Linked DNA regions of Homo sapiens. The protein of the gene in region 1 interacts with the protein of each later gene in a pairwise test. Each region holds a gene or a part of one and is shown in the gene's direction. Other genes may lie near its edges. The genes, in order: TUT4 and CPSF7.

Region 1 (4,218 bases):
TCTGAACCCTAGTTTTTTCATCCGTAAATGAGAGCAACAGTACGTAACTCACAGGGCTATCGTGAAGTGGAGCGTCCCTCTGTGACCTCTAACCAGTCCCAGCCTGAGTCACATTATAAGAAAATTTATAAGGCACTATCTTGTAAATACTTAAGATTTAACATCTTCCCTTCACCTCTACGTCCACTCTTTTCATACCTTTTTCCTGCCTAGCATGTGTCAAACTCAAAGGACTGGGCACAGAGCACAGAGGTTGTGTGCTTTGTCCAGCTTTGAGGTCAGAGATTGGCTAAATAATCTCTGAGGCTGGGGTCTTAAAAAAAAACAACAAAAAACAAAACTAACAAAACCTTAAGTCCGTTCCGCCCGTGACTTTAAATAATTATGTAGAGGAATGTAATACGTTAAAAGCAAGGGGATGAGGGGGCCCATTGATGGTAGATGGTTTTATGCCCGCCTGCAGCTAAAGAAATGATTTCTAAAACCTCTTTTGGGGGTGGGAGATGGAGTGCTCCAGAGATTTCTCTTCGAGCTCCTTCATTCCTGAACTGCCTGCCTTTTCAAAGGAAAAAAGGTCCAGCTGCGGTGGGCTGGAGGCCGTGGTGAGTGGGTGGGGGTCGACCCTGGCGGCTTCCTCTGCCCCGCTCCCTACCGTTGCTCCGAAGCCCGCTTGGGCTTCCGAGGGTCCGCCGAGGCTCGGGCCACGCCCAGTCCGAGTGCCAGGCCAGAGGGTACCCATTCCAGGCCGGCCTTCCTCCCCAGGGGGAGCAGCCTTGGGAGCGAGGCGCCGAGGCGGCCCTCGGGCTCGGCTTCCAGCTCGGGGGCCTCGGCAGAGACTAGGAACCAGACTGGGGCAGCACTGGGGCGCCCGCCACCCCCACCCACTCCGGCAAGCGGGCGAATCAGCGCGGCTAACCCGCGGCGCCCAGGCGGGCTGCGGGACCTCGCGACCTCCGCTCGGCGGCCCCGCCCCTGCCCGCGAGCCCCGGGTGGCTCCCTCCTCCCCTCTGCCAGCGGCCCGCCCCCTCCTCGCGAGCTAACGAGTGTCTCTCGCGCGCTCCCTTCCCTCCGCGTGGGTGTGAGTGCGCGATCCTCCTACCTCGGCCTTCTCCCCATTGTTTCTTCGCGGCCACCACGAGACCCCTCCCCCCAGTGCTGTTTCCCCCCTCCCCCGCCCCGGTGTAAACGGTGCCTGTGGGGCCCCCCGAACGAAGGGAGGGGGCACCCCTGAACCCTTCCCTCTGCGCGTAGCTCCTCCTCTCCCGGGCCAGGACCCCATTACAGGCTCTGTCCTCTCCCCTCCCCCTCTCCCCCGGCAACCGCTCTCCCTCGCCCCCTCCCCTCAGCGGGTCCTCCTCTTTCTCTCCCTCTCCCTCTCCCTCCTCCTCCCCCTCCCCATCCCTTCCCCCCCACAATGCAGTTCGCGGCGCGGCGGACATGGCGGTGGAGTCCTGAGCTAGTCGTGTCCCGGCCTCCAGCGGCGGCAGCGGCGACGGCGGCGGCAGCAGGAGGCGGAGGGAGAGCAGGAGCCACTGAGATGAGGAGGCGTCGCGCGCGCCTGTAGCTCGCGGGCCTCGCAGGTACGAGGTTCCGGCCGCGGGGCAGCGTCGGGTACCGAGGGGGTGTGCTCGGGAAGGCCGGGCGGCCCCCGGTTCGCCCTCCCCAGGTGCCGCGCTTCGCAGGTGTCGGGGGCCTGGCCTGAGAGCGTCTCAGCCGCCCCCTGGGGGCCTGACACTTCTTTCTTTCCTGGAACGGGCTTCGGGTGTCCCAGGGGAAGGCTGAGATAAGGGAGGTGGGGACGGCGGCCTGGGCGGCCTGAGGAGGGCATTGGGGCGCTTTGGGGACGAACTCCACACTGTGGCTGGGGCTCCCGGTCCCGGACCGAAACCTGTTGTAGACCAGCGGGGCGGATTTTGAGTTAACGGGATTGGTTTGAACATTTCTGTTGGGTCCAGTTACGATTCCCTGTCATGTGTACCTTTTTCTTTCACCCTTGCTTAGACATAGGTGACTACATAATGTATATAAATGTATACACGCATATAATACATACTGAATGTTTCCCCGGGCTCGTCCTTGTAGGGAGAAGGCAGAGGTGTCTGTGTGGATTTTGTTTCTTGCTCGCCCGCCTTCTCTCTCCCCCGCCCCCCAGTCGAAAGGTGGTAATGCGCGGTTTTGACGTGGGTAACTGAGATTCGTATTTGTAAACAGATAGCGCTCTCCTAGTGTGTTGCACGCCTCTGCGAAGGGTTTCAGACTCCTGTTGGTATCTGGATTGCGAAAGAATGAGATGTTTAGACCTGAAAGAAGCACATCAGCGGGATTTCTAGTCGTACTTGAATGGGATGAATTACTGTTGTATTAACAACGTTGATTACACATTTTCTTTTCAGAAGATTTCGAAGTCTTAGATGAATTTTGCGTGAGATCTTAGATACCGTATATCTGCTTCTTCATTTTGATAGAAGTAGTAGTTCCTTACACATTTGACCTGCCCTATCGTGATCTTAAATTGTGTCCAGAAATGCAATTCGAATTGTGTATTGTTGGCATGCATTTAGTAATTAGCCCGAGTGGATCAGATGGCCTTTTATTTCCAAAGATTTTTTCCCTCCAGTCTTACAGCAGCGAAATGTTTGTAGCACTTGATGAAACAGAACATATCCTGTTTCTGTTTTTAAAGTAATGAGAACTGTTAGCTAATAAAATTGGATAATCCCAGCCAGATATGATAATTCAGAGAATACCACCGAGAGGTGTTGAATTGTGGGATGGTTTAAAAAGAAAAGCCGACTTTGTGTGTGTGTGTGTATGTGTGTGTGTGCGCGCGCGAGCGCGCTGAAATTTTCTTTAGGCTTAGAACTCATGTATGTCACTACACTGCATCGTAGTACTGATTAGTCACAACTGGTAAAATGAAATATTGATTCTCTTAAAAAGCTGTGCTTAAGATAACTCATTAGTGTCTAGTGTGCTATGTTGCTTTTATAAACAAATTTTTAAAGATTGCTTCTTAGAAACCATATACTTTGGGGAAGATAAGAATTTTAAGTCGTTTTATGCTTTAAAAATATTTATATTTAATATAAACAAAAGAAACTTACTTTTAAAACTCTTAGATAAATTTTTCTGCTGCTTGCAGTTTTTCACTTGGCTAGTGTGGAAAATGAAAAATGAAGTTTTCTTAAAATAATTCAGAAATGGAAGTGAAAGTTAATGACATTTGATGTTTTAAATCCAGCAAACATTTAAATACAGAAAAGAAATTTAAAGTATTTTCATTGTCATAGGCCAAGTTGTTAGTACAGATAAATTAACAAATATTGTCATGCATATAAGTTCAAGTTTATAAATTCTAAGTGACACCTAAAATTACATTTATTTTTAGTTGCTGGAGCTAGAACAGTACAGTGTCTACATTTTAATTTTAGACCTTTTAGAATCAAAATGTATAATTATAAATTTCTCTGATTAACAAAGAGCTGTTTAAAGAGAATTTTTATTAGCTCTCAGCAGATTCATTTTAGAGTAAGTAATTAGAATTCTTTTTTATCTCAAAGTTAATCTTGACATAAAAATAAGTACCATTAATTATGTTGTGTTCTCTACAGAATGTCAAATCAGGATCTGTTGATCAAGAAAGGTGTTTGAATTTATTCACTGTTAAAGTTTCTAGTTTCAGAGAAACAAAATAACCAACACTTACCTGTAGGGCCTGGCCAGGTGGCTCACTCACGCCTGTAATCTCAGCACTTTGGGAAGTGGAGGCGAGAGGATTGCTTGAGCGTAGGAGTTTGATATCAGTCTGAGCAGCATAGTGAGACTTTGTCACTGCCAAAAAATAAAAGAAATTAGCTGGGCGTGGTGGTGTGCGTCTGTAGTCCCAGAAGCTGAGGTAGGAGGTTTGCCTGAGCCCAGAGTTCAAGGTTGCAGTGAGGCACAGTTGCGCCACTGTACTCCAGCCTGGGCGACAGAGTAAGACCCTGTCTTAAACAAAAAAAAAAAAAAAAAAAAGCAATACTTACCTGTTAATGTTGATGCCAGAACATTTTGTTTGACAAAATAGAACTCAATGAGTTGTGTTCCTTTTTCAAATAAATTGCAAATACTTGAATTGATTAAAAAATGTTAAATTCAGTTAAAGCCACTGCAGTAGGATAGAAATACGTTCTAAAAAAGAACAATTCCAGAAAGACCTAAAAAAGTCAAAGGAAAGGG
Region 2 (4,018 bases), on another chromosome or scaffold:
CGTGAGCCACCATGCCTGGCCGAGACCCCATCTCTTTAAAAAAAAAAAAACGGTTTATTTAAAAGATTTTGAAAATTAATATGCTTTAGTCAGAGAGGAGAAAGCTGATCTGAAAAATTATCTTTAACAGGTTTAGAGGCTTTGTGGTGGATAATTAACTTCAACGGAAGGGTTTTTTGCTTTTGGAAAAGACTTAGTGACAAGGTTGTTTATTTTGTTGTTGTGTTTTTTGTTTTGTTTTGTTTTGAGACAGAGTCTCACTCTTGCCCAGGCTGGAGTGCAGTGGCGCAATCTCGGCTCACTGCAAACTCCACCTCCCGGGTTCAAGCAATTCTCTGCCTCAGCCTCCCGAGTAGCTGGGATTACAAGCGCCCACCACCACGCCCGGCTAATTTTTGTATTTTCAGTAGAGACGGGGTTTCATCATCTCGGCCAGGCTGGTCTTGAACTCCTGACCTCGTGATCCACCTGACTCGGCCTCCCAAAGTGCTGGGATTACAGGCGTGAGCCACCGCACCCGGCTGTTTTTTTGTTTTGTTTTGTTTTGTTTTTGTTTTTGTTTTTTTAATAGACACATTGTCTCACTCTGTCACCCAGGCTGGAGTGCACTGTCATGAGGCACCATCATGGCTCTGTAACATCAACCTCCTGGGCTCAGGTGATCCTCCTGCCTCAGCCTCCTGAGGGCTAATTTTTAAATTTTTTGTAGAGTCTTGCTTTGTTGCCCAGGCTGGTCTTGAACTCCTGGCCTCAAGTGATCCCCCTGCCTCAGCCTCCCAATGTGCTGTGGGATTATGGGCATGAAGCCACTGCGACTGGCTGTAATTTTCTTTTGAAGCAAAATGAAAGCAGGAAGGTTGGGATAAAAACTCTTAAGTAATGGAGAAGTTCAGTTAAGATTGGTTGGATCCAGGGGCTCTGGCTGTGTCATCCAGACTTTATCTGCATCTCTCAGCTCTGCTTTTCTCTGTTGCTTTCATTCTTAGACAGGCTCCATATTGGTAGGGAGTCAGAGGGGGTGCTGTGTCTTTAGGTTGCATCCTACCAGCTTAGCAATCCCAACTGAAGGAAAACTTCTGGAAAGATTGTTTCTATTATATAAGCATATAGGAGCAGGTGTTGTCTCTGCTTCTATGGAAATCTTTAAAATAGGCCAGAGTGGCTAGGGGTCTGTCTGTAGTTCTTGGAGGCTACTGCGTGACCCAGGTAACTTCAGGGTCCTTTCTTAATTTTGTGGTTGCAGATTTATAAGTCTCTAGGACTTCCCATTTCTCTGTCTCACATCAAGTACATTAGGAAGATGTCCTTGGCCGAGCACGGTGGCTCACACCTGAAATCCCAGCACTTTGGGAGGCCAAGGTGGGTGGATCACGAGGTCAGGAGATTGAGACCGTCCTGGCTAACATGGTGAAACCCCGTCTCTATCCCGACCGAGACCATCCTGGCTAACACGGTGAAACCCCATCTCTACTAAAAATACACACAAAAAAATTAGCCGGGCATGGTGGCAGGTGCCTGTAGTCCCAGCTACTCAGGAGGCTGAGGCAGGAGAATGGCATGAACCCGGGAGGCAGAGCTTGCAGTGAGCCGAGATCGCGCCACTGTACTCCAGCCTGGGCGACAGAGTGAGACTCTGTCTCAAAAAAAAAAAAAAAAAGATGTCCTTGATTATTTGCCTGCTTGATCTAAAGTAATGGTAATTGAAAAGGAAGGTGAGGGGAAAGAATAGTAGTTCTTTTTGGTGTCTTTGGGATGGCGATATCTGGATGAAGAAGGACAAAGAAACTCACCACCTGTGAGCCCCTATAGTTCATGAGCAGTAGCTGGAATGTAAATAGTTGGAAAATTAGCAGTATTTTGCCCAGTGACAACCTACTAAAAACCAAAATACTCCTTTTAGGTTTGGCTACTGCCCTCTGTCTTGTTCTTTGGCCATTAGCTTAAATAGATTTATAGCCAGGAATTGTTTTTATCTTCTCCCAAACAAGTAAGTGGAAAGATGAAAAATTACTAATATTTTTTGTCTCTGTTCTCTGTTGTTAGCCACTCATTTATTCCACAAAATCCTAGAGTGCTTAACATCATTGAAATCTAGGTTAACTCATGTAGAATCAACAGTTAGGCTGTGGGCTCCAGGTACTTCTTTCTAGATTTTGCAACAGGTTGAGTTTGGGGAGATGCCCATGTATCCTCTGGAAAAGCAGACGCTATTGTAGATGGAGACCACAAACAACTTTGGCCTAATTCAGTCTCAGGTGGGCATGAGGGCAGGCATTAGAGTTGGTCTTGGTCCAGTCCTAACTCCCTTTTCTTGTTTGAGTCTGCACAGTTGCTAGTGTTACTTGTGGGTTGAAAAGCACATGTAGGCTACAGTGTATGTCTTTTGGAGCTGACTGGGATAAGAGTGAACAGGAAGGTGATGATTGACCTGTGCAGAGCATGCACTGTCGTCTTTGGGGCTGCATTCAGTTTAGTAGTTAGAACATAAATGCATGTCACCATTCCTGATGGCTTTGCTCCTGACAGCCTTATGACAGGGAAATTACCAGCGAGATCCACTGATCCAGCAGTAGTTTGAGAATTAAACATCTCAACCTGAGTCTTTAGCTGTCACTTTGCATTATTTCTTCCACTTATAAAATGGGGCCAGGCACAGTGGCTCATGCCTGTAACTTCAACACTTTGGGAGGCCGAGAGGGGCAGATCGCTTGAGCTCAGGGACCAGCCTGAGGAACATGGCAAAACACTCGTCTCTACCAGAGATACAAAACTAGCTGGGCATGGTGATGTGCTCCTGTAGTCCCAGCTACTTGGGGGTGCTGAGGCAGGAGGAGTCCCAGCTACTTGGGGGCACTTAGGTGGGAGGATCACTTGAGCCCGGGAGATAGAGGCTGCAGTGAGCCATGTTTGTGCCACTGCACTCCAGCCTGGGCAATAGAGCAAGACCCTGTCTCAAAAAAAATAGTAATAAAAATAAAATAAGATGAGACTATTTCTCCCATTATGAGGATAACTCTCTTTTGGTAACTTTGAAAATGCTGTAACAATATTGCCTAGAAAACAGTCATTTGACTTGTGTAGGCCCATGACAAGATGGGAAAAATTAACTCTGAGGCAGGTTTTCTACTTCCTCACTTTTCCTGGTCACCCGTTTGATATAGTGGTTATTGCATCTGAATAATAGTCTGAAAGAACTGAATCAGGCACCCCAAGAATGTCAATTTCTTACATTCTCACCCTAAGGACTCTTAATTCCATCTGTAGTGACCAAGTTATGGCTTAGGAAGTTTCATGTTGGGAAGATGGTACATGGTCCTCATTTATAGCAACCTTTTAGTTAGAAATGAATCATATTTATATTCTATGATGACAGCTGTTCCCTGAGAGTGAAAGGTACATTTTGTCCAGAGGCAGCAATAGAACAGTAGCCTTCTTTGTCCATCTTTTCTCGGCGTAAGACCCAGTTCTGGGGCCTGAAGGCTAATTGGCCCACTTGAAGGAATCTCTGATTTCTGCCTGCATTCCAACATTGGCACCAAAATGTAGCCATGGAGATTTAAGAATTCAGTGCTATGGCTTGCTTCTCTTGGTGTACAAGTTATCCTCTGCAACCTGTGTCTTCAACTTTTTGTAGTTCTCAACTATGTCAGTTATCTCATTATTTTAGGACATTATCCTACTTGAAATATAGTCATTCTCACGTCATTCCTGTCCTCGTTATCCATTGAAAACTGAGCTTTCTCTTCAATTTGGATCGAATTCAAAGATTCAGAAGCCCTAATGGTATGTAATTGAGTGCACTGAGGGCTTCAGTTTTCCCTTAGAGAAAATGGGACAAATACCAGCCTGCGTAGGTGTTTAGACAGGCCAGGAAGGCTTAGGCCATATAGATTCTGAGGACCCAAGCTGAAAATAGTGTCATTTCGGTGTGTACAAGGATCAGGGAGGACGTAGATGTCTCCTCTAGGTTTTATAAGGCCACTTTACAGAAGTAGTTATATAAAAGGTAAACATTTGT

The links.
Region 2: the proteins of TUT4 (region 1) and CPSF7 interact in a two-hybrid assay, tested with the Homo sapiens proteins (one large-scale study listed by BioGRID).

Annotation. Positions count from the first base shown.
Region 1 is NC_000001.11:52,550,293-52,554,510, reverse strand, and holds the start of TUT4 (terminal uridylyltransferase 4), read left to right. Parts: upstream 1-1,418; 5' UTR 1,419-1,580; intron 1,581-1,673; exon of another isoform or gene 1,674-2,300; intron 2,301-3,104; exon of another isoform or gene 3,105-3,154; intron 3,155-3,706; exon of another isoform or gene 3,707-3,831; intron 3,832-4,218. UniProt on the Homo sapiens protein: Uridylyltransferase that mediates the terminal uridylation of mRNAs with short (less than 25 nucleotides) poly(A) tails, hence facilitating global mRNA decay. Essential for both oocyte maturation and fertility.
Region 2 is NC_000011.10:61,405,697-61,409,714, reverse strand, and holds part of CPSF7 (cleavage and polyadenylation specificity factor subunit 7), read left to right. Parts: intron 1-4,018.